7 linked regions of the Homo sapiens genome follow. The protein of the gene in region 6 purifies or fractionates together with the protein of the main gene of each other region. This does not show direct contact. Each region holds a gene or a part of one and is shown on either strand. Other genes may lie near its edges.

Region 1 (3,940 bases), on a different chromosome or scaffold from region 6:
AGCAGCACATGTGTCGAACACTGCCGAGCCCGCAGGCACGCCTGCATCCCACAGCCACGAGCCTGTGAGGCTCAGGCATGTGACCTGCAGGAGCTGGAGGCGGGCGGGAAGGCAGGTGGGGGCCTCTCCCTGGCTGGAGCAGGGAGCTCCAGGAGACCTCAGGACGGCCCCCACCCGGTGGGTAAGGACCCTGTTTCCCAATTTGCCCCCAAGGCCTAATGGACCCACCGGGCTTAGGGAGTCCTCACTCAGAGGAGAGGAGCCCACCCCTCCCAGGACACCTGGCTGAGCCGGAACAGCAGCGCAGGGGAGCTGTGACAGCAGAGAGCAGCACCAGGTCACACAAGCAGCCGCCCCGGAAGGACACGGCCCATGGTGACAGAGGACAAGCAGCATGCGTGTGTCAGACACTGGCCTGGCCTGTGGACACGCCCGCGTCCCACAGCCATGACCCTGCGAGGCCAGGAGAGACTGCTCCAGGGCACATGACCTGTGGTAGCTGGAAGTGGGGCAGGGAGGCGCAGCCACACTCCTGCTCTGGTCCGAGGGAGATCTCAGGAAACCGACTGGGAAATCACCCCCCACAGGGACCCCCACCCCTCCCAGCCTCACTGCGCCCGTCAGGCCAGGCAGCTGCCCTCAGGGTCTGCCAAGGTGGGGGTCAGGGGCCATGGGGGCAGGTAGCTCTGCCTGCAAAGCCCACAAGCATGTCAGATCACCTGGGCTGCAGACAGACAAACACCTGAGCTGTTCTGAATACCTTCAGGTTCCTGGCCTCCCTGAGCAAGTGCAGAAATTTTTACCTTCAAGGATCAGGGTTTTTCTGTTTGTTTGTTTTTTAACACACATATATGTGAACAAAGAGTATGCGTTTGTACTGGCAGAAGAAGCGTCTGGTAAGACAACCAGCAAGTTAACAATGGTCACCTCCAGAAATGGGCTGGGTAAACCAAAGAATTTTTTTGTTTTTGTTTTTTTTGAGTCAGGGTCTAGCTCTGTCACCCAGGCTGGAACGCACTGGTGTGATCACGGCTCACTGCAGCCTTGACCTCCCTGGCTCAAGCAATCCTCCCAGCTCAGCCTCCTGAGTCGTTGGGACTACAGGCACGTGCCACCACGCCTGACACATTTTTTAAATTTTTGTAGAGACAGTGTTTCACCATGTTGCCCAGGCAGGTCTCAAACTCCTGGGCTCAAGTGGTCCTCCAGCTTCAGCCTCCCAAAGTGCTAGGATTATAGGTGTGAGCCACAGTGCCCAGCCCCGTAGTGGAGAATTTCTGTTGAATGAACCAAAAGCAACTGCCAACCTCTCCATGCACCATGTGTTTCAGAGGAGAAAGCACAGTGAAGAATGCAGTGTGTTCTGAGGTCCTGTCACCCCTGAGGCTGTGTGTGTCCTTTGCCAAATTAAAGAGTCTTACTGAATGCGGTGCATCCAGGAGACAGGCCCAGGTTTGGACTGGTCCTCTAGCCTCAGAAGCATCTTTTTCTCCGACTGATTCCGTGTTCAGGTAATGTCTGCCTGCCTGCCTAGGGCATCTCCACACCTTAGGCCAGCCACGTCCGCCTCGCCCGCTGGAACCTACCTGCCCATCAGAGTCGTAGCCCCAGTTAGTGGAGCCTGCTAGAGCCACGGCCCGGGCATCTGCGTCTCGGCGGGCTGCACTCAGGACGAAGTGCCAGGCCCTGCTGTTCCGGGGGCGTCTGGCCATGGTGGAAAGAATCTAGAAGAAAACACAGGCTCTGGGCAAAGGAAGACTCACAGCACTCCCAGCCCTGAGCTTCCAGGCTGGGCCACGGACCCACTCAAAGTGGGGACTGCAGGGGCCGCACCGGTGCCCAGCCAGGGCTCCAGAACGCTTCAGGAGCCCGTACCTCACTCCAGGATCTGAGCAGCTCAATAAAACCCAGGTAGATCCTGTGAAACGCCACCCAGACACCCATGACTCCGGAATGCGAATCCCAGCCCCTCTCTCCGGTTCCACCTCACGAACCTGGCTGCCCCGCCCGCCTGTCCCGCAGGCATCTAAAACCTCCACTCGCTCCTCCTCTGTCGTCCGGTTTGACAAATGGCATCTCCGGCCTCCCAGTTCCTCATGCCAGAAGCACCGTGACCGCTCCCCGACACCTTCCCCTCACGCCCGGCCCGACCGCCGCACCCGCCTGCATCCTCCTCCCGCCACCGTCTCCTGGGCCGCGCAGCTCGCCTTCCCCTCCGCTCGCTACCGCCAGGGCTCCTCGTGAAACACAAATCTTAAAACCTGCTCAGCGCTGGCCGCTGTTATGGTATAAAATGCAAAAGGCTGCGAGGGCCAGGTCTGCGCTTCCCAGGCCACCTGCCTGGCACCTCCCTCGCCAGCTCCGGGGTTCCCGCCTAGCCTTCCAGGGCCGACCCCTGCGCCGGGCTCGCGGCTGGCAACGCCCGCTGGGCCCCGGGTGGGGTTCCAGGGAGGCCGGGGCGGATCGCGGCGCCCGGACCGCCGAACCCTGCCCAGCCCCAGGCGAGCGCGTGTGCAGCGGGAGCCGCCCTCCCCGGCGGCAGCCCGGCCTGGCTGTTCCCTCCCGCGGGCGCGCGGGTTCCGGAGTCGGCGGCACCGGGGAAGCCTCTCTCGGGCGCGGCCCTCCGGAGAGGAACAAAGGCGGCGCCCTGGCCGCGCTGCTACCGCCGCGCCCGCAAGGTCAGCGCGCCCGCCCAGAGCCCGAGACGTCGGCCCGTGCCCCGCCACTCACCTGCAGCCCCCGCTGCGCGCTCCGCCGGCCCGGCCCTGACCCACTTTCCGCCCCGGAGCGAGACGTAAACAATCCCCGCCCCCTGCGCCCATTGGCTCCGGCGGCGAGGGGCGGGCACACCTGTCTCGGAGCTTCGGGAGAGGGGGCGGGAGTCGGGTGACAAAGCTATTGCCGAGAGGTTTCAGGAACTGTCAGTCCTAATCCAACGTTCCTATTGGTCAGTTCCCAAGCGGTTGGAGACAAAGCTCGCGCGCACATTGGACCCGGGTGGGAGGTGGTACCGCAGGCCGCGTTGACCGGAAAGTAGGTCCGTGTCATCGTCTGCGCCGGAACCTGCGGGACCGGATCGAGAGCTCCTCCGGCAAGCTGATTGGCTGGGACAGCAGGATTAGGCCTGTCAAGAAGAGCCACGGGCGGGCACGCACTGCCCATTGGTTGGAAGGCCCTTCGCTCTAGCTGGGAGGCTGACGGCCCGCGGGCGTAAGCGGACTGCAGCCGCGAGCTCCTGGAGGCGGCGGGATGGAGGCGGCGGCCGGTGAGTGGCGGGCCAGGGTGCGGAGCCGCTCCAGGGCCTCGCTTGGGGCCCCGCCGCGTCCCTTCCCGGGGCGGCCTCGCTGCGTCGCGCGCCTCCGGTGCGACCATCACCGGCCGGCGTGGCTGGGCCGGGCCAGAGGCCGCGGCGCGGGCATTTTCTAAACAGGGTCGTTTCCCGCGTGCTCCTGCTTCGATGTGGAAGCTCCGTGATCTCGGAGGGCCTGAGTCGTGGAGTTGGGGGAGCTTTTAAAGTTAACTTTGTTGAGCACCGCGTTGTAGGCGGGCGCGGTGGCGCCTGTGGGCCCCGCTATCCTGGAGGTCGCGGTTGCAACTGCACCGCAGCCCGGGCAAGAGCGAGACCCTGTCTCTAAATAAATCACACGCGCGCAGTCATGAAAGTAAGACGGACGCCAGAATCTCACATGCTTTTAAGTTCTTTGTGGAAGTGGCGCTCTCAGTGTTCAGAAAAGTGTAAGTTGCGCGGGACAGAATTCACACCAGTGGGGACGATCCGTTCGCCAGATCAGCGCCGTGGGCCCTCCTGAGTAGTGGGAGCCGCATTTATCTTCTAAGAGACCTCGAGTCCGATACCAAAAGGAAAACATTCCTCGGACAGCAAGGTCTTGCAGCACAACTCTGACAGATTAGAAACCGAGTGCTGGAGTCTTTTGTTTTT
Region 2 (3,500 bases), on a different chromosome or scaffold from region 6:
TTCTGAGAAGAGCGACAGCTCCTGCTGCACTCTTCTTCTAGTCCATCCGCCCTTCCCTCTGCTCTGGACCTCTTAGCCTTTCTCCTCCCACTTCCTCATCAACACGGAGCAGACGATCCATTCAGGAGAAAGTCACAGTGAAAAAAGTTACATGAGCCTTAGGGTAGAATTTAATGATAACAAGACACATATTAATAACTGATATATATCTTTTTATTATGCACAGATAAAAGATTTAAAACTGTGGTTATCAAAACTATACATCTAAGCATCTTCACAAAATAGCTGACACACTGAACAGAGAAAAGAATACAACAGGGGTGTTCAAACTGGCCACAGGGATTTTAAGGGTACTCGTTTTACCCTCATAGATGATGAAAACCAGCAACAAAATCAGGCTCATTCAGGAAAAACCAGAAGAGAGAAGTATTGTATTTGGAAACTGATAATAGTCCTTTTTAGAAAAACATCTGTCAGTTTCATGAACAACCCCCAGATAAAACAAACATGAAAAAAATCACATAGGACTCACCCAACAAAATGTGCTCTGTTAACACAACCAGCAGTACAATCATCATTCAAACCATGAGGTAGTTACAGTACAAAAAGACTGGCACGCGTGTGAGCACCCCACACACACTCACAATCATGCCCACTAAGAACACAAGCAGGAAATGGATTTACAATCTTATTACAAGGCAAAGAAAAAAACCATTTTTTTTGTTTAGAAAATGCTATAGAAACAGTTTAGACAGAAGAAATCTCTGGCTTTTTAAAATACAGAGTAACAGCTGGTAAACACCACATGGTGAAAAGCTATAGCGTATTATACAGACAATCTGCCTTGGAGTTTGGGGCATTTTAACAACAGCTTCAGCATCAAACAAACAACAAAATGGCCTCTGCAAATTAAGGGTGTAGCCTGCAGAAATAACAAAAGACTGCAGATACAAGAGTTCAGCTGAAATACAACAATACTTTTAAAGAAACTTGTAGTACACGTTATAAAAGTAGAGCTTGTACTTTGTATTAAAACTGTAAAGTGTGAAGCAATTAGAAATACTGTAATGAGAAGCTAGGGAGAAAATACCTTATTTTTTTCATGTTCATTTTTTAGAAACATTTCAGAAATACTTAACGACATTCACTCTCCAATATGAGATTAGGTTTTATCGACACAGATTTCTTGATCTGAATAATAATTCTGACAATGAGACCCAAACAAATAAAAGGTGATTTTTTTCCTCTCTCTCTCTTTTAAAAAGATCTTTTGGTTTGCATCTATAAATTTGTAAATTAATTTTAAATTATTTATAAAATCATTGGCAATGTAGCATCTCTCTTAAAAATATATATTTAAATATATTACAGAAGGTTTTAACCCTGTCCTTCTAAGACATCAATCTTTTAATATCTCCTAATAGCTAATTTTCTTTTTAACACGATGGAAAAGATTTTTTAAAAAAGCAAAGGACTGATCGAAAGAATTCACAGTAGCTGAAATTAAACATTTCATATGGAGTAACTTAAATTTATCTAAAACACTTAAATATATCTTTATACACAAATTTTGTAGTAAAATATAGCTATAAGTGACTTAAAGACTCTAGTCTTCTTTGAAGACATCTTTAAACTTTTTTATACATAGAATATGCTGAAACAATACATTCCACCGAAGGTTAGGCAAAGCGCAATATTTTCAAACACAGGTAGCGTAATCTAGGTCCTCCACTCTGATACCCTTCTGTTAAAAAAAAATTAAAGGAAAAAAATTCTCTAAACTCATGTCTTCTTCGTTTGTATATGGAAATCTAGAAATTTTTCAGTAGATCAATGTAGATAGCCTGGAAATCTCAGCCCTAAAGTAATGTTTTAGTTAAAATGTTCCTTATTGAAAAAAAAAAATGTTCCTTATTGAATGTGTATATCTATCAGGTAAGTCATATTATTACTCAACGATTTGGTAAAAATGATTGTCAATTTCCACATACTTGTTTCCCATGTAGACACTGCCCTAAGGTTTTAAGCTTCATCAGGATTACCTACTGAGGTTCCATTCACAGACAACCAGGCATAACTTCCTTATTTTAAGGGCAGTGGGATTTGCTTATGAATATTTTGGGGGTAGAATCTATCTTGTTCTACTTATGGAATTCTAAGTTGTTTGGGGGAAATTCTGGAAAAAGAATAATTTGCAATGAAGCTATCTTCAGCAGTAAAATAATTTAGCATGATAATTCCCCCCTGGCATTCTTTTTTTTTTTTTTTTTTTTTAACAAGGAGGTATCACTGAGCTTATTTTAGCTGCAAAGTGGCATCATATTATTCCATTTAATGAAATTCACCTCAAGCCCTTTTTGACATATTAAATATATGGGATATATTTAAGGCAAGAGAAGTAAGGCAATCCAAATGAGTGCCCTTTTCCAATCTCAGCACTGTCTTGGTGGAATTGGTGACACTATTCAGATAACCAACTGGAGACCGACAGGATTTGCCATGCATTTGCATCTTGCTACAGTTTGGTTTTTATGAAAGGGCCTATTTTTTTTTAAGTTGACATATTTTGAGTGGAAACACTCACCCTACCAAATATACTTAAGTTGCAACTCTAAAAGCATAAGGACATTTTCAAATTTTCTCTTCTTCAACTGAGAAAATGAATGTGCCAGGTGACATATTATATACTTGTACTTGCATACACATAGAAATATATCACTGTGCAAATTCGTCCTTGACTTTATAACTGAATTTCACCTCAAATTATACATTAATTTGCAGAACAAAATATTAGGAATGGGCACAAATCTGTGGTTCCTGATTTTGGTCATTTTCAATTTCTGTAGGCCTGTAAGAAATACAAAATTTGCATTAAGACATTTTGCAGTGGTGTATGCAAGTATGGGAAGAAACAGGAAGCTGATAAGGTCATCAGCATTGGTTTTGGCCCAGGGCACAAGAAAGGAATGTTGCCTTAACACTTGTCAGGGTGCAGTCCCTGAGGGCAGCACCCATCAAGGGACACATCAGACCCCACAGGTTGTGGCAGCAAGGTCAGAAGTGTGCATCCAGACAAAGGTGCAAATTAGACAGGAGGATCGCTTAGAAAGCCTCAAAGCATTTCTTGTTTTACATCTTGGTTCAGATATAAAGAATCTTTGGCCGCATCTCCTCACTGGTTCTACTATCTGGCTATTAACCCTTTACCAACTCCTTGAGTCTGGGTAAAACTCAGGGCCCCAAATTATGGATGTTCTCACCTGGACAAAGCAGCATTTTAAAAACTGGCATGTGTTTCACATTGAAAACCCCCAAGCCTGTGAGGGGCTGGTGGAGAAGACCACCATTTTAGCTTTCTCACATGAATTCTAGTGTGGTACAGAAGCCCAGGGTCATGTTTATACTAGCCCTGGGTGTGGGGTGAATACAACGGGTGATCTTTATACTGAAATTCACTCTGTCTTTACAAGGGAACCAAAATCCAGCCCTCTGAGTCTGGA
Region 3 (3,500 bases), on a different chromosome or scaffold from region 6:
ATTACAGGCACGTGCCACCACACCCAGCTATTTTTGTATTTTTAGTAGAGACGGGGTTTCACTGTGTTGGCCAGGATGGTCTCGATCTCCTGACCTTGTGATCCACCCATCTCGGCCTCTCAGAGTGCTGGGATTACAGGCATGAGCCACTGTGCCCGGCCAGGACGCTGACTCTTACTGGAATATGAATTGCTTGGTCCAGGTTAATAAATGTTTATTGACCCAATCCTTGGCTTTAGATCGGCTTATATAAAGATGAGTAAGATGGATGGACTCTTACCTCAGTCTATATTTAGTAAAGGTTAAACTTAATTGGAAGCTCCATAGTTCTATTTCTTTCCTCCATTCAAATATAGATTAGCTACACTATTTATATCTTTACCTTTCTGATTCAGTTTACTCATTTGTAAGATAATCAGCTTTGACTAGTTAATATCTAGTTTCCCTTTTACCAGTGTATGTAATTCATCTAATATTTTTTCTTGTTGGTTTTTGAAACTTAGAAATGTGTTACTTTTATTATAGTGGTAAATATAAATAATTGGGTTTTTTTTCTTTTTCATCAAAAAATACTGGGTTTTGCTTCTGTAAGGTATAATTTAAGTCACTTCTCCAAGGACCCCTCTCTTAGATGGATTTCCCAGACAGATATTGCTACCTTTGATTTTAAAAATTCTTAAAATGCTATTAAACCTATACACTCCATCCTAATATATATGAATTATTCTTCCTCAGAGTGAAGATACACAACAGCAAATCATCAGGGAGACTTTCCATTTGGTATCTAAGAGAGATGAAAATGTTTGTAATTTCCTAGAAGGAGGATTGTAAGTAAAGCATTTCATAGACATTTCTAAGTTTTGACTATGTGATTAAAATATATACTGTTTAATCAGTTTATGGTAAAAGTTTTCTACTTTTGATTAATTGGATTAGGTGAATTAATTGCCACCTATGTTAGCTATAAATCTAACTTAAAGAATTATTTTTAAAAGATATGCAATCTTTTTTCCTCTTAAAAATTTTGGAAGGGAATTTTATATAAAGGTAATATATTAAATCGTAAAAATTCCAACATTACAGGGAAGTATAAAATGTAAAATAAGAATCTCTCAACCTTAGTCCTTCTACCCAATTTCTTGTGTATCCTTCTAGAAAATAGTTTGTATTGACTAACATATAAAGTATGTTATATGTGTTGACTAACCTACAACCTTAAAATTTTTATTTATGAGATCACACTTTGTATGCTCATTTGCATGTTGCTGGTTCTCAGTATTTTCAAAAGCTTTGCATAGAAACACATCTAGGACAAGCTTATTCTTTTTAATGACTACAGAGTATTCCTTTTTGTGAATGTTCATAAAAATTAGATTACATTCTTTATTTTACTGTTACAAGACTGAAGTCTGTTTTTCAAATATACCTAATTCAGCTAATCAATTTTTCTATTTTTAAAATGAATAAGAATATTGCCAAATATTACAAACAAATACTTTTAAACTAATAACTTCCATGAAAATGGTTTGTTCTCAAACATAAATCAGTCAGAGAAACTTAGAATTTTCTGTATTTTACTGTGTATGATGGATGAGAAATACTCTGGATAACAGGGAATCCATGGTCATAAGGTACTTTTTATCATGTGGAACACTTAACTTGGGTTTCCTGAAAGATTATATCATGCTGTCCTTAAATGTCCAATACATACTTACAAATTTTGCTGTTAACTCAAGGCTTCTAATTTAATAATTGAGACAAGTGTACCTGCTTCTGTTTTTGAATTTTACTTGTACTTATTTAATTTTAGTTGTCTTTGACATTACTATCACTTCCTCTCATCCTAGCCTCTTGATTTCTTATCTCCTAGGAAACTTACCACCCAGCACAGTGCACTGCATGTAAGAACTTGATTAATCTTACTAGGGTGCTATTTGAATTAGAAATTGTGGCTGGAAATTGTGATTGTTCTTTTTTAACCTTACAAAAAATAGAAAGCAAATATTGCAGCAGAGATGAGGCCTCACATCTAGTTTAATCCTAGTTTTGTCACTAACTAGCTGATTTCCTTGGACAGGTTACTTAAATTCTCAGGCCTCAGTTTTCTCCTCTATAAAATGAGTTATTTGGACTAACAGGATTTCTCAGTCCTGTGGTTTTATATGATGTATTACATTCTGTACAGGAATTTTTGTCAGTATTATACTATAGCTTAAAGATAAGATTATATTTTTAAAGGCAAAATATGTACTTGCCGCATTAATATTTTGCTTGCTTTTAATAGCATTACTGGCCTTTTTGAAACTTATATTCTTCAGAAGTTTGCTGTCCTTTTAAAGTAAAGCAAAAGTTTTAAGATAATCACTAAATCGCTGATTCAGAATGGAGTAAAGCCTCCTATTTGTGTTCTTTTTGCCTCTTTCAGGGAACAATTGCAGTCATAGTCTGTAAATATACTCTCAGAATCTTTAAATTGCATGTAGATATTTTTAAATTAAACATCTTCTCTAGAAGAGTATCTAGCATAGTAGGAAATTTTTATTCTTGTCAAAGATCATTTCTCCTTTTGCTATTAGAAGACATAGAAGTAGTATATACCTTGGGAAGTTGTTTCTACAGAACTTATAAGTTTAGTATTATTTTTACTGTGTAAGAAATAGATGCTGGCCAGGCGCAGTGGCTCACGCCTGTAATCCTAGCATTTTGGGAGGCCTAGGCGTGCAGATCTCCTGAGCTCAGGAGTTCGAGACCAGCCTGGGCAACATGGTGAAACCCCATCTCTACTAAAAGTACAAAAATCAGCCAGGTGTGGTGGTGTGCGCCTGTAATTGCAGCTACTTTGGTGGCTGAGGCAGGAGAATTGCTTGAAGCCAGGAGGCAGAGGCTGCAGTGAGCTGAGATAGCACCATTGCACTCCAGCCTGGGTGACAGAGTGAAACTCTGTCTCAAAAAGAAAGAGAGAGAGAGAGACAGAGAAAGAGAGGATGAAGGGAGGGAGGGAGGGAAGGAAGGAAGGAAGGGAGGGAGGGAGGGAGGGAGGGAGGGAGGGAGAGATGCCATTTTCCCATATTCTGTTGGGATGGATGTTAGTTTAATTTTGGTTACATATAGCCTTGATTGTAAATTATGTAAGTGTTTAGGGGTCTTTTAAGAAGGTGAATTCATTATTGTAAACTTAACTATGAAATAGCTAAACTATATTTAGAAAAATATGTTTGGAATGATTCCTAAATTATTATTTCTAAAATACTAAAATTCCAGTCATTATAAATAAAAGTATTTCATGAAAGAGTTTAGTATCTTAGCTCAGTTTTCTTGCATTTATGTCAAAACAATGTAATTTTGGAAGAGATCTTGACGGTAAATCTATCCAAAACTTAAGAAGTGTCATTCTTCTTTTTTTTCTGGTTGATAATCAGTCTTAAGCTGTGTAACTTACTGTGACGTATGGAGTTAAATCTAGTAAGCACTTACAAATGCCCCATGATCTAATTTCCGCC
Region 4 (3,500 bases), on a different chromosome or scaffold from region 6:
CACTTCTACTCCTGCCTCTAACCACCTACCCCCAGCTTAAAACACCCTGAACCTCAGGATACCACGAAAAATAACCATTACTTGACAGAAAGGACCCCTCAACCCTTGAGAGGCAAGAAGAGAGGGTTGCATGTAAAGGAGAATAAAAGGTGAGGCTTCAACCTCGAAACACAGATTTTTTTTTCTTTTGTAAACATACACATTACTGAAATGACAGCAACCCACATTGCAGAGGAGAAAAGTCTATTAGCTGTACAGTTTACATTTCAATGCCCAAACTTATTTATATATTTACATAAAGATGCTACCTTGATTAATCAATGTCTATTTGCATTTCCACATGTGAATTTCTTCAGTTTTGATATTCCATATGAAGGAGCTACAGTGAAAACACTTTTGAATAAAGCAGTGAACCCTAAGAATCTTATCTTGAGATGAGATGTGTGAACCACCATTTGAATGTTATTTCTCCCTGCTGTGTACATTAGTCTGGCTGGGTGTTGGTCACAGACATGGATGCACTGACGGCTATTCCCATAACCGAGCCAGGCGGGAAGGGGGAAAAGGAAGACATTATTTGTCACCAACAACCCAGTATCCCAAGTCAAAATTCTCAACTATGGCCAAAAAGGCCTAAACTCGACCCACAGGAACTGGCTTTCTAACTGGTTGACAAACACGTAAGCTGCCCTCCTGCAAAAGCCAACCAGAGAACAGGCAGGTGGCAACAGGACCCAGCCTAGAGCAGAGCACTTCAGAAGAGGATGGATAAATCCATCAGGGATGCTCAGGGCTTCCTGACCACTGTCCCGGGTGAAGGCACTGCCACATTTTCTCTCAACAAATCTGTTATGTCCCTGGATCCAATTATTTAGCCTAAGGAATGTCACCTCTGCTAAAGAGAAGTGTGTTTGTGAGGGGTCCAAAATGATAAACCGTCTTGTTAGCATCATGCTCCACCCTCTGAGTTAACCAGCTCAGATCCTTGCTAGATTTTGGAATCCAGTAAATCTGTGTTGACCCAGAGGTGCTGCTGCTAATGCCTCCAGAGAATTCGTGTCCAGATGAAGAGACTTAGAGTGGCTTCTCCATCCTGCTCGAACTTCAATTGCTCTATCCTCCGGTAGTCCAAACTTCAGCCTTTAAAAATACCCAACTTACTCCAAGAGCATTATTGAACCCTTAAGAGACTAAACTGGAAAATTAATTTGCTTGCAAGCTCCAAGGCCAGCATTGGCCCTTAGCAATTCACCAATTCATCCCAAGAAGAGGAAGGTTCAGACAAAGAGGAACATTACATTGCATGGCCACCATCAAGTTACTTTGAGGAAGGTTTCCAGGCTTCATTCTATAATTTTAGTTTTCAGCTCACTGATAAGCAACCTCTTTCATTCTGACCATAAGATAAGCTCATATTTGGTGTCAGAAACATCCTTTTTTCCCTCTTTGTGGTCCCTACTCAAGTAAACAGAGAAGACATAAAGTTGCCCTAATGAACAAGAAAAGGGATTTGATCCCAAGACTATAGACTCCTAGAACTACTAAAAACCTTAAAAGATCATCTGGTCTAGTTTCTGCCTTTAGGCAGATGAACATCTAAGGCCACAGGGGACAGGTGGTTGTCTTATTCTCAAATACATCAAGGGACAAAGACCACACAGACTTTCTGAACAGTCCATCCCAATGTTTCCAGAGCTCAGCCTACTCCTAGTGATACAACTCCCATGACCAAGCCCAGAGGACCAGCAGCTCTGGGAGAAAGTGGCAGATTCCAATATCCTAACATGGCAGGACACAAAACCAAGGTGATCTCACCTTATCTCTAGGGAAAAGGGCAGAAAGGAAATTGCAAAAATTATGTTTGTTGGAAAGTATAAACAATATTCCTTTGTGTCAACTTAATAAAAAATGAGGCCCTCTGGGGCCCTGGGGTGAACTCCGGGCTGCTGACATCCCACGTGAAGTGGCTCCCAGTCCTGTTGGCTCCTCCTACGGGCAACAGGGGTTGTCGATAACCAGCATGACATCAATGCCATAGGCCTCCAGCAGGTCCAGGAGAAAGCTCCGGTCTCCTTGGGGGTCTAGGCCCATGCCCCGGGCATGCTCTGCTGTCAGAGTTTTGTCTTGACTGGCAGACACCTCCAACAAAGTCTGAAATATCCGGTTGTTTTGTTCTAGGAAAAACCTGCATTTGGAAGACAAGACACAGGAAAGGAAGCGGGGGGGAATAAAAAGCTCACCAGATAATCCACATATGGGGAACCAAAACTATACTGTTTTGTTTAATGTACTTTTCAGTGGATTCGCAGGTATCTTTTAAAAAAAGAAAAGAGTAAAAGTTAATTATTCAAGTGCTACTAAGGTTAGCAAAGAAACCATTTGGCATTAATTATGGTGTGATTAGGGAAATCTCTAAGCAAGATGGCCTGTCAAAATCCATTTTCCTGTTGAGGGAAGTGACCTGGGTTTAAACACAGCCTGAGAAGAGGCCCCCAAACACTGCTTTTCTCTCTTTCTGCTTAGTCATAGGAGGAAGCAAAAATTCAACAACAACAACAAAATGAACGTGAGCCAACGTTACCCTTGGGTGTTTGCTCTCCCTTGATGACTCTTTGGGAGGAGTGAGATTATGCACAGATCAAGATTTAAAAGTCACTGCTTTAGAGTGCTTTATGAACAAACAAGCTCTGTTCAGGACAGGGTTCACTGCCTAGTTAGACTAGACAGTCCAGCCCCATACAGCTCTCAGGTTGGCAAAGTGCCTGGTGCCTGAAGCGGCCCTCGGTGCTCAGGAATTTCAGACACAGTGGCACATGTCATACCTGGATGAGACTATGGCTGTGCTCAAGTCTCAGATACTTTCCACCTAAACAGGATGTAGGTTTTAGAAGTCCACTATTAGAATCAAGGTGCTACACCTTTGTAGAAATGCCCACATTAAGTTTTCAGCATCAAACCACAACCTCACCCCTGGAAGACCAAACAGGAAGCTGGGAGAATTCAGTTGATGCCACAGAAGGCTACTTCACCCAGCTGTCTAGGAATGAAATCAGTACTGTGAGGTGGAAAGGCCCTGGCTTCTGCACCTACGGGGCAAAGAGATTTCATTTGATTCAAGAATTAAAATTTCAGATTATCCCATAATATTCAGCGCAAGGAACTACTCTATTCAAAGGAGGCAATGGAAATGAGAAGTCCCTGAGTCCTGAGGGACAGACAGAGCTTCCAGGCAGTGGACATCCTCGATGTAAAAGCCCAACAAGGAAAGAAACACTAAGACTCCTGTTTTCTCTTAAGGGACCTGCTTCTTTCCCTAAGTCTTCTGGGTTCCCCCTAATGGCATTTCAGGGCTCAGGTTTGCCTCTGTAAGGAGCCCGGCTCTAAGTGCCCTTGGCAGCAATAAACGGCATCCCTGGCCCGCAGTGAATGACATGGGAGGGATGCAGGTCACTCAGTGCCGAAGGGATCCTCAGGGAGACTCCACATCCACGGCCCCAGGA
Region 5 (3,360 bases), on a different chromosome or scaffold from region 6:
TTTATATGAAGCTTGGAGGACAAATAACAGACAGGTTTGAGCCTAACAGATTTGTTTGAATCCCAAATTTACCAATGACTGCTTGTGTGACCTACTAAACTAAGCTCCAGGAGGGCCAGGCCAGGTGTCTTATTCAACCACAAAATCCCAGCGCCCCCAGCATGTGAGGCAAATTTCCTCCATCAGCATAGGAATCGGATGACCTGGGAAAGGGAGTATTGTTAGTTTTCCTAGCGCCAGCTTCAATAGGGATTGGGGTTATTTAAAAATACAGGAGAAAAGTAAGGAGGCACTCAAAAACAAAACACAAAACCCACATTGATGGGGGTATGTCAAAGGTGGGAACAGGAGATAACGGAAAGAGTTCCCAATGGTCAAAGCTGGGATAATTTGAGCAACAAAATAAAGCAGTATTAAATTGTAACCCAAAGTATAAAATATTCATGTGTCCACACTGATAAACATAAATGATCGAACTAATAAAGCGAAAGGGACAACTGTCCTTTGCAGAAGAATTTCAATTAATCATGTAGACCACTCCCAAGAAAGTACACTACAACTCCCCATTCCTTTAGTGTGGGCTGTGCATAGTGATTTCCTTCCAAAGAGCACAGTATGAAATGGGGGAAAAGAGTAACTTTACAATGGAGAAACCTGACAAACACTCCTTCAGCCAGGTGATCAGGTCGTCAACATCAACATCAATAACAGTCATAACCTTTTATTTCATGTCATAAAATGGTGACACTTACTTGTGTTAAAAAAATTTAATAACAATGTAATCATTATATCTCTGCAATCAGCTGAAGTTCTAAGAAAAAATGACAATGTTGAAAGTTGTATCATCATTATTATAAACTTTCATGTTCAGTATATGTAAACTCCAAAGCCAATTTCAAAAGATATTTTTGTGAAATACCATTCTTTAAAAAAAAGGATATTATATATAACTGTATGAATGTTAAATGTTTTACAGTACTGATTTGCTACATTTTATGTATGCTGTAAAACAAATACCATTTTAAAGTATATTGGAATTCGTAACTAAAGTAATAAATAAATGCTTGAAATATACCCAGTAGAAACTTATTTTTATTATCCAATCCTTTTGATAAGAAATGCCTCTAGTGTTATGTACAAACTTGATCTTCTTGGAAACGTGTTGTCCACTGCTTTTCTGTTTCTGTCACAGTAGCTATAAACAGCTGTTTAAGGATATCCTTATCTAAATTTCTGCCTGCAAACAAAACAAAATATGACGTGATTACATTATGCTTATTAAAATGACACAGTTCACCTATCAATTCCAGTTCATTAAATGCTTTATGGTGTTTAGAAATTTACAAAAAGAATAGTAATTGAGTGATTCCATCTTTAACTTTCCAGGTCAGTACATCAAAGTCACATTGGTCCTTGGATTAACCACTTTTCTAAAACTGAAGAAGAACAAAAGTCCTAACAAGCTTTTACGAACGTTGTAACGTGATAAAGATGAAACATTGACCACAAGCTTATTTAGTTTTAAAAGAGGACCTGAATGGTTAATCTGTTTAAGTGGCACATGATATCCCTTTCAAATATATTTTTCACTTTGTTTTAAAACTGTGAATCCTTTGAGACTTACCAAGGAGGACCAATCGATTTGTTCTCTCAGTGTCATCCTTCCAGCTCACTGGAGTCTCCTCCAGATCATAGAGCTCATGGACACCCTGGACAATCACTTGTTGTGATTTGTCTTTGATTGACACCAATCCCTGCTCAAAGGAGAATTGACTGAACATTAATCAGCCTCAGTTCAAACTTAAAAGCAGAAATAGAGCATCAATGTTAATGGATTAATTACTGATATTCACTTAAAAAATACAAACTCTTAAGCTGAGAAAATTACTTAATTCCAATTATTTGTGAATTACAAGAAGTTTCTTAATGTTTTTAATTTTCAAAAAAGGTTTCTGTGTATTGATTTTCTTTTTGAACAATCCCCTTTTCTAATGATAAAGTTAATACATATATTAGGATGGTTTTTCAGTGTTATTTATCACAACCAAAACCTGAAACAAAATGATGAAATATGTATCATATCCTATTGATTAAAGATTTTATATAATGTTTCACAGTTTTCGTGGGAAAAGTTGAGAAGTTAAAGGAGTTTGGTTATATTAAATAATTTGTTTTAGAAATGGGTTGCAATCAATGAACAATGATGAAATAAAGAAAAACTATTATATTTATCTGAATATGAGCTCATTGTGTATTGATTTGCAGAAATGAGAAACGAATTATCTGATAAACTGGCTCCTATGGGGATGAAATTAATTTATTTGAAATAATATTCTTAATTTACCAAAAACTTTGTGCACACTTGTGAACACACAAGAGTAGACACTCAACTGACTGGTTAAGCATACACTTTAGAATCACTGCTTCCTAGAAGAAATACCTTTCATGACTTAAATACCCAAATATCAAGTAACGTGAGTGGGTTTCTAAATACAGAACAAGAATTCTTCTAGTCCTTTGTAACTTTGTTTAGAGTATGACAAATGTTTAGTGTCTGCTAAATGCATCAGGAAGCATAATGTTCAGCAGAAGTGAGATTTGCAACATTATTTCTCTGTACTTGGGAACAGAGAGCAGAAGGTAACATTTCAAAGCACACAGGTTTGTTCTAGCTGCAACCCTAAAGAAAGTTGTGCAAATAAATCAAGCCTTATGCAGTGATTTCCAAAGCTCCTTTTCAGTCACGAAAATAATAAAGAAAAATGAAAGTAGACAAAGATGATTTGTACTAAAACAAGTGTTTCTGTTTAAAACCAAATATAGTTTTTATAACAGCCAAGAAAAGGACTTTGTCCGAAAGTCTGCAACAGTAAACTGTACCTTCAGCCTTATGACCTCCATGCAGTGATTGTCCTTGTTTCTCACATTCTTTTCCCACAGGAGATTCTGTATCAAGTGACATATTTTAATAAGACCAACCATCGCTAATAGCAACAACTATGTAACAAAACCATTGATAAATCATTAATCAGTTAAAAATTGCATTCACCTGAATAAACATATTAAGATGTTCTTCCTTTGCATTTCCTGGTACTTCAAATGTGATTGTAACAATACTCTGTAAATCAAGGGAAATAACAATAATTCTTTATAGTAATATCAATGTTTTTTAAATCACAAATTTTAAGATGAAAAGGAACATATTCATGGAATTTTACATTGCTTAAACCATATATATTAGGTATTATACTTTCCTCAGCATATGTGCTGTTTTTTTGGAATTAGCAACTCCATTTCCTACATTCTGCACAGGTACCAATGGATTTAGTATTTACACAAACTACTACCTTGTATTTTAAA
Region 6 (3,971 bases):
AAGGTCTTACAACCAGGAGGTTATGGATGTATGATTGCATATCCCGTCCGTCTGACTCCAAGGCCCCAACTTTTGTCCCCACCCCCCTATCCTGACGTTTTCCACACATCCTCTCAACTTATCCCACATCGTCACTGTGAACCGCATCTCTGATGCCCTGAACCCTTCCACAATCCTGACCACTCCCTCCTCACCACCCCCTGCCAGGTTCCCCTCTGGTGCTCCTACACTGGGGGCTGGACGTGCTGCCCCAGCCGGAAATGAGGCAGCTGGTGCCAGCAGTGACACAGCGTGAGGAGAGGGTGAGGGGTCGCACAGCCCAGGTGATGGAGACTGGCGATGCCATCTTCACCAGCATGATGTCATTGCGGTGGTCTTTGTTGGGGAGGCTGTTGTTGAAGCCGGGGTGGGGGAAGGACTCAGTGGCTGTCCGGGTCTGCTCACAGCCCTCCTCCTTCTGGAGGTTGTGCTGCCCCAGGTGAACTATGTAGCGGCTGAGGTGGGAGAGACAGTAGTTGGAGGAGGAAAGGTCGGGGGAGACATGGGTGGGAGAGGTGAGTGACACCTTTGAGGATGAAGAAACATCGCTCTGCTTCCAACCTCTTCCACGTCTCCCACCGAAGCCCCCTTCCCAGCCATAGCCCCATCCCAACCCCATTCATCCCCCCACCTTCAATACCAACTCGAGCCCATCAACCTTGCTGACACTACCCATCCCCATCTCTAATCCCCTTACCAGCACCCCTATCCCTGAGCTTCTCTCCATCCATCTCCCCATTCCCAGCCCCCCACCCCGGCACCGCCCCAGCCCCCGCACCCACGGCTTGAGGCAGTGGGCTGCTGTCAGGAGCCATCTGGGGGCGATGAGCGTCGCCCCACAGAGTAGCCGCGTCTTCTCGAACAGGGCTGCCTGCCAGGGCTGGGAGTGAGGCTTGCACTCGAACCCCTTGATGATCCTGGTCTCTCCCCCTACAAGCCCTGGAGGGGGTGAGAGCAAAAGAAGGGGCTCAGGAAGGAGAGGTGGTAGACCAGGAGGACTCCCAGAAATGGGGGTGGGGAGGAGAGAAAGAGAGTGGGTGGTCTGGGCCCTGGTCTGGTGTCCCTCTGGGTTGCCCTGGATGCTGGGGTCGGGTATTAAAGGATGAAAATACTTCCATAAGGTCAAATGCAGTGGCTCATGCCTGTAATCCCAGCACTTTGAGAGGCTAAGGTGGGAGGATTACTTGAGCCCAGGAGTTCTAGATCAGCCTAGGCAAACATAGTGAGACCTCCTCCCCCATCTCTACAAACAATTAAACAATTAGCCTGGCTTGGTGGCAGGTGCCTGTGGTCCCAGCTACCGGGGAAGCTGAGATGGCTTAAGGATCACTTAAGCCCGGGAAGTCAAGACTGCAGTGAGCCGTGTTGGCACCACGGCACTCCAGCCTGGACAATAGAGCAAGACTTTGTCTCTGGGAAAAAAAAAAAAGGAAATACTTCCATACTGGTTGGTCAGTAGCCCCTGTCCTGGGCGCTTTGAGTGACTGCTCCCCCAACTCCAGCTTCCTCAGCCCCTCCACGGGACCCTTTACGACCCCCTTGACCTCTCCTCCTTTGGCATTTAAAGGGATTATCTAGAAGGGCATCCAGGCCCTCATGACCACTGCTCCAGTTCAGGTGCCTTATGGGTTGTTCTGTAATTTGGAATCAGCCCTGTCACTGTCCAGACACAGAGGGTTAGGGGATCCCAGAGATTCAAGAGGGAGGATCCTGCCCTGCCCCCATCCCCTGCGTACCTGTTGCCAGAGCAAGCAGGATTAACTGCAGAATCCTCATGGCCTGGAGGGGGGAGGAGCGGGCCCCAGGTTCCTCTGGGAACAAGGAGGGACATGGGGCCGCATCACTTTACGGGGAAATCGGGAGGGGGGGGCTGGCTCATGCCCTCTCCTCTCTCCCTCACCTGCTCCCGCTCCCCACTTGGGAGAAACAAGGTTGGGGAAATCCCCTGTTTCTCACAGCACTCAGATCTCCAAACACTTAAAATATATCTTAGGTGTCTAGGGTGGCCTTGGAGAGGGCCTGGTCACAGCTAGAAGCTTCCGAGATACCAAGAACCATGTGGAAGTCGTTGGGAGGGGCTTTGAGCTGTCAAGCCATGGTTCGGCCCTGTTCAAGTCAGCCATGGGACCTCCCCGGCACATGTCAGAGGATGTTTTCCTTCTTGCCTTGAGAGCTGGCCAGGCCCCAGCAGCTTGGGGTGGAAGGACAAGGGGAACCAGACACCGTTCCGTAGCCACCCCTTTTTCATTGTCTTCGCAGCAGAGCGATATGGAGCCTTTGAGGTCTGCTGGAGGGGAGTAGGGGGCTCAGCCCCAGACAATGTCTGGGACCCCCATCACCCGGCTTGCTGAAGCCCTGTCCGCCAAACCCCTGCCCTTTTGAAGGACAGCCAAGCAAAGCTGGGCGGGGCTGGTCGAGGGGAGGGCCAGTGCCCTCCGCTGCCCTGGCCAGCGGGGGTGGGAGCAGAGGGCCAGCTCAGCAGCTGAAGCCATGGAGATTAGAGGTAACTGAGGCTGCGGACAGCCATCGGAGGTGAGAGGTGTAGAGAGAGGCCAGGAACCCCCACCCAAGCAGAGAAGGACAGAGCAGAGGGAGAAATGGGTGCCCGAGTGGGACAGGTGTCCTTGGGGAGGGCTGACACCTGGACGGGGAGGGGCAGCTTCCCTTTCCTCCTGGACTCACAGGCTCTGGGGCTGGGGCTCTGGGGGCCCAGTGGCGGCGGAGACGGCAGTGGCGGCAGCTACAGCAGGTAGGCTGGGTTGGAGCGCCAGGTGCCAGGCACCAGGCAGGCGGGCTGGCAGGGGGGCGGCCCTGGGCGGGCCCAGGATGACTGGCCTCCAAGCCCTGCCTTAATGCCCCGGGGCGGGGTGTGTGTGAGGGCCCTCCCCGGAGGCCTCTGAGGCACTGGCTGCCTGCCTGTGCCACCTCTCCAAGCCCCTCTTCTCCCTGTGTCTCAGCCTCCCTCTGTCTGTCTGTCTGTCTGCAGCCTTCCTTTCCCTGCCCTGAGTCTCTGAATCTGTGTCTCGTTCTATGTGTCATTCCCTGTCATTCAGTAATTCTGACTTTGTGTGATTTTTCTCTTTCTGTCCCTATGTGTCTGTCTGCCTTTCTCTGTCCTCGTCCCTGTCTCCATCTCCACTCTTCTCTCTCTGTCTGGCTCTGTGTGGCCCTTTCTCTAATTCCTTCTATCTTTGTGTCTCTCAGTCAGTCTCTCTGACTGCATCTCTGGCAATTTGTCTTGAAATCCCTCTTCTTCCATCTAATCTCCGTCTCTCTTTTTCCTCCCGTCCCAGCCACTCCCTCTCCACAGCCCCAGCCCAGGTGGGCCCCTGGCCTCCCCTAGGCCGCTCCCTTCTCCTTTGCAAGGAGAGGGGGGGTGTGCTGGGATGTCACACAGGTGGGGCTGCTGCCAGGCACAGGGGCAGGACCGGAGGGTGGGGGAGGCAGGTCAGGGCCTGTGGAAGCCGAGTCCAGGAAAGGGAACAGAGCCCTTGGCTGTGCTCCACCCCAGGGCTCCTCTGGGGCCTCGCTCCTCTGCTGACCCTTCCCCTGCCCGCTTCTCCCTGCCGCCCAGGCAGCCCGAGTCCAGCTGTTCACTTACTGGCTGCTGTGAGACCTCTGCCCGATGACTTCCAGTCCCGCAGCCACCTCAACCTCTGCATCTGCGGAACCCGAGCGCAGATTCCTGCTTCTCCCAGCTTGTTTGTTTTCAGTTAGGTCCCTTCCCTTGGCTTTCCTCCCCTCTCTCCCCTGACCAGGTGTGGAGCAAGGCAGGGGAGGGCCTAGGTTCTGACAGCAGCCAGCCCTGGCCTCAAACCTAGGTGCTTCCTCTTCCTACTACTATGACTACCCTTATGACGTGGGGACAAGGGACTCCACCCCTGCAAGGCTCAGTTTCTTCATCTGAGAGATGGGGGTGACAGACCTGCTTG
Region 7 (3,500 bases), on a different chromosome or scaffold from region 6:
GCCACTGTACCAGAGGTGGGAGGTAGGAGGATCGTTTGAGGCCAGGAGTTCCAGACCAGACTGGCCAACACTGTGGAACCCTGTCTGTACCAAAAATACGAAAGTTAGCTGGGAGTGGTGGTGCAGGCCTGTAGTCCCAGCTCCTTGGGAGGCTGAGGCACAAGAATCGCTTGAGCCTGGGAGGTGGAGGTTGCAGTGGGCCTAGACAGTGCCACTGCACTCCTGCCTGGGTGACAGAGCAAGAGTGTGTCTCCAAAAAAAAAGAGATTAGAAAAAGAAAAATCCCATTTCTCATTTTCTCTTAATCTACTTCTAAATGTTCCTGCAGTTTTTCATAACCAATGCAATCTTAGCAAAACATTTTCATCAAAAAGATGGCGGACCGGCCGAGCGCGGTGGCTCATGCCTGTAATCCCAGCACTTTGGGAGGCCGAAGCGGGCGGATCACGAGGTCAGGAGATCAAGACCATCCTGGCCAACACAGTGAAACTCCGTGTCTATGAAAAATTAGCCGGGCGTGGTGGTGGGCGCCAGTAGTCCCAGCTACTCGGGAGGTTGAAGAAGGAGAATGGCGTGAACCCGGGAGGCGGAGCTTGCAATAAGCCGAGATCGCAACGCTGTACTCCAGCCTGGGCGACAGAGCGAGACCCCGTCTCAAAAAAAAATAAAAAAAAATAAAAATTGGAGGACTAAGAGTAAGGTCAAGAATTAAGATAATGAAGGAATACCAGACTAGAGTTGGGAGATTTGGCTAAGAGTGAGACCTTGGCATTGTCACTTCACATGCCTGATTCTCTTTTTCCTCATTCAGTTATTAGTCACATGGAGTAAATGAGTGCAATAATTTCCTTTCTAGTTGTAAAAAAAAATTCCAACTAGCACAAGGGTAGAGTTTTGGATGTATGTAATAACAACTACTTTTGTATAGTGATTTATAGTTTAAAAATAGGTTAACAAACATAATGCTAACAGCCATCTGTAAGGGACTGTTATTTTTATCCTTGCTTTTAGCAAATGAGAAACTGAGTGCTCCAAGGGCCCCAAATAGCAAGTCGGCAGCATATAAATGTCAAAGCAGGAGTTCAACCTCGCTTTTCCAAGTCCAAATTCAATAGTTCTTCTACTATACAAAACAGTCCAGTGAGAGGATTTTCAGTGGTCACTGAGGAATTCCAGAGTCACATATACACACAAGATGAAAAAACAGTCCCAGAAGTTTAGCTTGTCCTAGTATTTTCAAATGTTCCCCATTACTAGAATTAACAGAACACTCATCCCTATTGATTCTTAGTACTTAAAGTATCTACGAAACTCACGTAGTATCTATGAAACTATCTGAAACTCCCTACTTTACTGTCCCTAAATACCTGGGGCATTTGCACTTGTATAACTGGGGTGAAAATACTCTCACTGGACTGTTGTGTACACTAAAGTAGAAGAACTACCGAATTTGGACTTGGAAAAGTCTGGGTGAACACTTGCTCTGACATTTATATCCTCTATTCTTTCTACTCTAAAGCAACACCACTGTAGGGATACTGAACTTTTTCATGAGCCACACTTATGAATAAGCTAAGAAACAAGTCTCAAAAAATTGCTAAGAATGGGCATTATAAATGACAATCTCTGATAAGCCAGAAATTATGTCAACCTTTAGTACAAAAAAAAAATAAAAAATTTTCTAGGTAGTTAGAAGTTAATGCACACAGTCCTAAATAACACAGGCCAAAATAAAAGAAAAATTTTAAATGCTCAGAACTACTAGAACAAAGTGAATTTAGCAAGGTCACAGGATAAAAGATCAAAACTAATACTTTCCACCATATACTTGGAATAAAAATTGGACTATTACATACTTGGAATAATTTTTTAAAATTTCAGATTCAGTAACATCTGAAAATATAAAATATTTAGAGACAAATTTAACAAAATATAAGCAAAATCTAAAACGAAATAAAGAAAGAAAATAAATTATACAGAGCCTAAATAAATGATTAGCATGTTTTGTTGATTGTTTGGAAGACTTGATATTGTTACTATGTCAATTTCCCCTGAAACGGTTTGGCTCTGTGTCCCCACCTAAACTGTAATCCCGATGTGTCCAGGGAGGGTCCTGTAATCCCCACATGTTGAGGGAGGGAGGTGATTGGATCATGGGGGCCGTTTCCCCCATGCTGTTCTCATGATAGTGAGTGAGTTCTCACGAGATCTGATGGTTATGTGTTTGACAATTCCTCCTTCACACTATTTTCTCTTCTGCTGCCTTGTGAAGAAGGTTCCTGTTTCCCCTACCACCATGATTGTAAGTTTCCTGAGGCCTTCTCAGCCATACAGAACTGTGAGTCAATTAAACCTCTCTCCTTTATAAATTACCCAGTCTCAGGTAGTACCTTTATAGCAGTGTGAAAACACACTAATAAATCCCTCAAAGTGATGTATAGCCTTAATGAAGATCAATCAAATTCAAGCAAGCTTTATAAAAAAAGCAATTCAAATATTTATAGAAATGCAAAAACTTAGAGTAGCGAAAACAATTGGGATAAAGAACAAAGTTGAAGGACTTGCACTAACTGATGTCAACAATTACTATAAATCTACAGTAATCATGACAGTGTGATATTGGTAAAAGGATAGTTAGAAGCCAATGGAAAAGAATAGAGAATACAGAAATAGGCCAGGCACAGCGGTTCATGCTTGTAATCCCAGCACATTGGGATGCCAAGGTGAGAGGATCACTTGAGTGCCAGAGTTCAAGACCAGCCTGGGCAACATAACAAGACCCCATCCCTACCAAAAAAATTAAAAAATTACTCCTGTGTGGTGGCATGCACCTCATGGTATCTGTGGTCCCAGGTACTCAGGGGGCTGAGGTGGGAGGATTGCTTGAGCCTAGGAGGTCAAGGTTGCAGAGAGCTGTGATCGTGCCACTGCAATCTAACAATCTAGCCTGGGTGACAGAGATCCTGGCTCAAAGCCCTCTCCCTGCACCGCCCCCACCCCCCACCAAAAACAAAAACAAAAACGCAAGAACAACTTTCATGTGCTTTAAAATAATTATATATATACATTTGAAAAAGGTGAAAAACCTTGCTCCCCACTCTCCCTGCTAGATGTAACCACTTTTATTAGTTTTGTGTATCTGACCTTTCTTCTTTCAAACACTCCTATTATTGTTTGAGTATGTGTCCCCTCCAAAACTCATGTTAAAATTTAACCCCTAATGTGGCAGTAGAGTGAGACAAGGCCTTTAAGAGGTGATTGGGTCACGGAGGCTCTGCCCTTATGAATGAATTAATCCATTCATAAATTAATGGGTTAATGGATTAATGGGTTATCATGGGGGTAGGACTGGTTGCTTTATAAGCAGAGAAAAAGAGAACTGAGCTTGCACACTCAGCTCCCCCTCCATGTGATACTCTCGGCACTCTGCAGAGTCCCTCCAGCAAGAAGGCCCTTACCCAATGTGGCCACTCGATCTTGAACTTTTCAGCTTCCACGGC

Evidence for each region.
Region 1: the proteins of KLK11 (region 6) and SPSB3 purify together in Homo sapiens (affinity purification with mass spectrometry; 3 studies listed by BioGRID and IntAct, with this or other methods). This does not show direct contact.
Region 2: the proteins of KLK11 (region 6) and TGFBR3 purify together in Homo sapiens (affinity purification with mass spectrometry; 3 studies listed by BioGRID and IntAct, with this or other methods). This does not show direct contact.
Region 3: the proteins of KLK11 (region 6) and AP3S1 purify together in Homo sapiens (affinity purification with mass spectrometry; 3 studies listed by BioGRID and IntAct, with this or other methods). This does not show direct contact.
Region 4: the proteins of KLK11 (region 6) and DENND11 purify together in Homo sapiens (affinity purification with mass spectrometry; 3 studies listed by BioGRID and IntAct, with this or other methods). This does not show direct contact.
Region 5: the proteins of KLK11 (region 6) and ZNG1A purify together in Homo sapiens (affinity purification with mass spectrometry; 3 studies listed by BioGRID and IntAct, with this or other methods). This does not show direct contact.
Region 7: the proteins of KLK11 (region 6) and VMP1 purify together in Homo sapiens (affinity purification with mass spectrometry; 2 studies listed by BioGRID and IntAct, with this or other methods). This does not show direct contact.

Annotation. Positions count from the first base shown.
Region 1 is NC_000016.10:1,779,772-1,783,711, forward strand, and holds the start of SPSB3 (SPRY domain-containing SOCS box protein 3), read right to left. Parts: upstream 2,801-3,940; 5' UTR 2,731-2,800; exon of another isoform or gene 2,262-2,730; intron 2,052-2,261; exon of another isoform or gene 1,995-2,051; intron 1,961-1,994; exon of another isoform or gene 1,945-1,960; coding exon of another isoform or gene 1,876-1,944; exon of another isoform or gene 1,725-1,875; coding exon of another isoform or gene 1,713-1,724; coding exon 1,587-1,712; coding exon of another isoform or gene 1,422-1,586; exon of another isoform or gene 1-1,421. Other genes in the region: cytosolic Fe-S cluster assembly factor NUBP2, read left to right, coding at 3,250-3,265.
Region 2 is NC_000001.11:91,680,152-91,683,651, forward strand, and holds the end of TGFBR3 (transforming growth factor beta receptor type 3 isoform a precursor), read right to left. Parts: 3' UTR 192-3,500; downstream 1-191. UniProt on the Homo sapiens protein: Cell surface receptor that regulates diverse cellular processes including cell proliferation, differentiation, migration, and apoptosis.
Region 3 is NC_000005.10:115,865,935-115,869,434, forward strand, and holds part of AP3S1 (AP-3 complex subunit sigma-1), read left to right. Parts: intron 1-735; coding exon 736-827; intron 828-3,500. UniProt on the Homo sapiens protein: Part of the AP-3 complex, an adaptor-related complex which is not clathrin-associated. The complex is associated with the Golgi region as well as more peripheral structures.
Region 4 is NC_000007.14:141,660,667-141,664,166, forward strand, and holds part of DENND11 (DENN domain-containing protein 11), read right to left. Parts: intron 2,186-3,500; coding exon 1,990-2,185; 3' UTR 1-1,989.
Region 5 is NC_000009.12:120,337-123,696, forward strand, and holds the end of ZNG1A (zinc-regulated GTPase metalloprotein activator 1A), read right to left. Parts: intron 3,119-3,360; coding exon 3,050-3,118; intron 2,947-3,049; coding exon 2,881-2,946; intron 1,755-2,880; coding exon 1,625-1,754; intron 1,238-1,624; coding exon 1,131-1,237; 3' UTR 501-1,130; downstream 1-500. UniProt on the Homo sapiens protein: Zinc chaperone that directly transfers zinc cofactor to target metalloproteins, thereby activating them.
Region 6 is NC_000019.10:51,023,817-51,027,787, forward strand, and holds the start of KLK11 (kallikrein-11 isoform 1 precursor), read right to left. Parts: upstream 2,801-3,971; 5' UTR 2,722-2,800; exon of another isoform or gene 2,681-2,721; intron 2,327-2,680; exon of another isoform or gene 2,205-2,326; intron 1,883-2,204; exon of another isoform or gene 1,851-1,882; coding exon of another isoform or gene 1,816-1,850; coding exon 1,776-1,815; intron 979-1,775; coding exon 822-978; coding exon of another isoform or gene 818-821; intron 566-817; coding exon of another isoform or gene 495-565; coding exon 229-494; intron 1-228. UniProt on the Homo sapiens protein: Possible multifunctional protease. Efficiently cleaves 'bz-Phe-Arg-4-methylcoumaryl-7-amide', a kallikrein substrate, and weakly cleaves other substrates for kallikrein and trypsin. Cleaves synthetic peptides after arginine but not lysine residues.
Region 7 is NC_000017.11:59,714,154-59,717,653, reverse strand, and holds part of VMP1 (vacuole membrane protein 1), read right to left. Parts: intron 1-3,500. UniProt on the Homo sapiens protein: Phospholipid scramblase involved in lipid homeostasis and membrane dynamics processes. Has phospholipid scramblase activity toward cholesterol and phosphatidylserine, as well as phosphatidylethanolamine and phosphatidylcholine.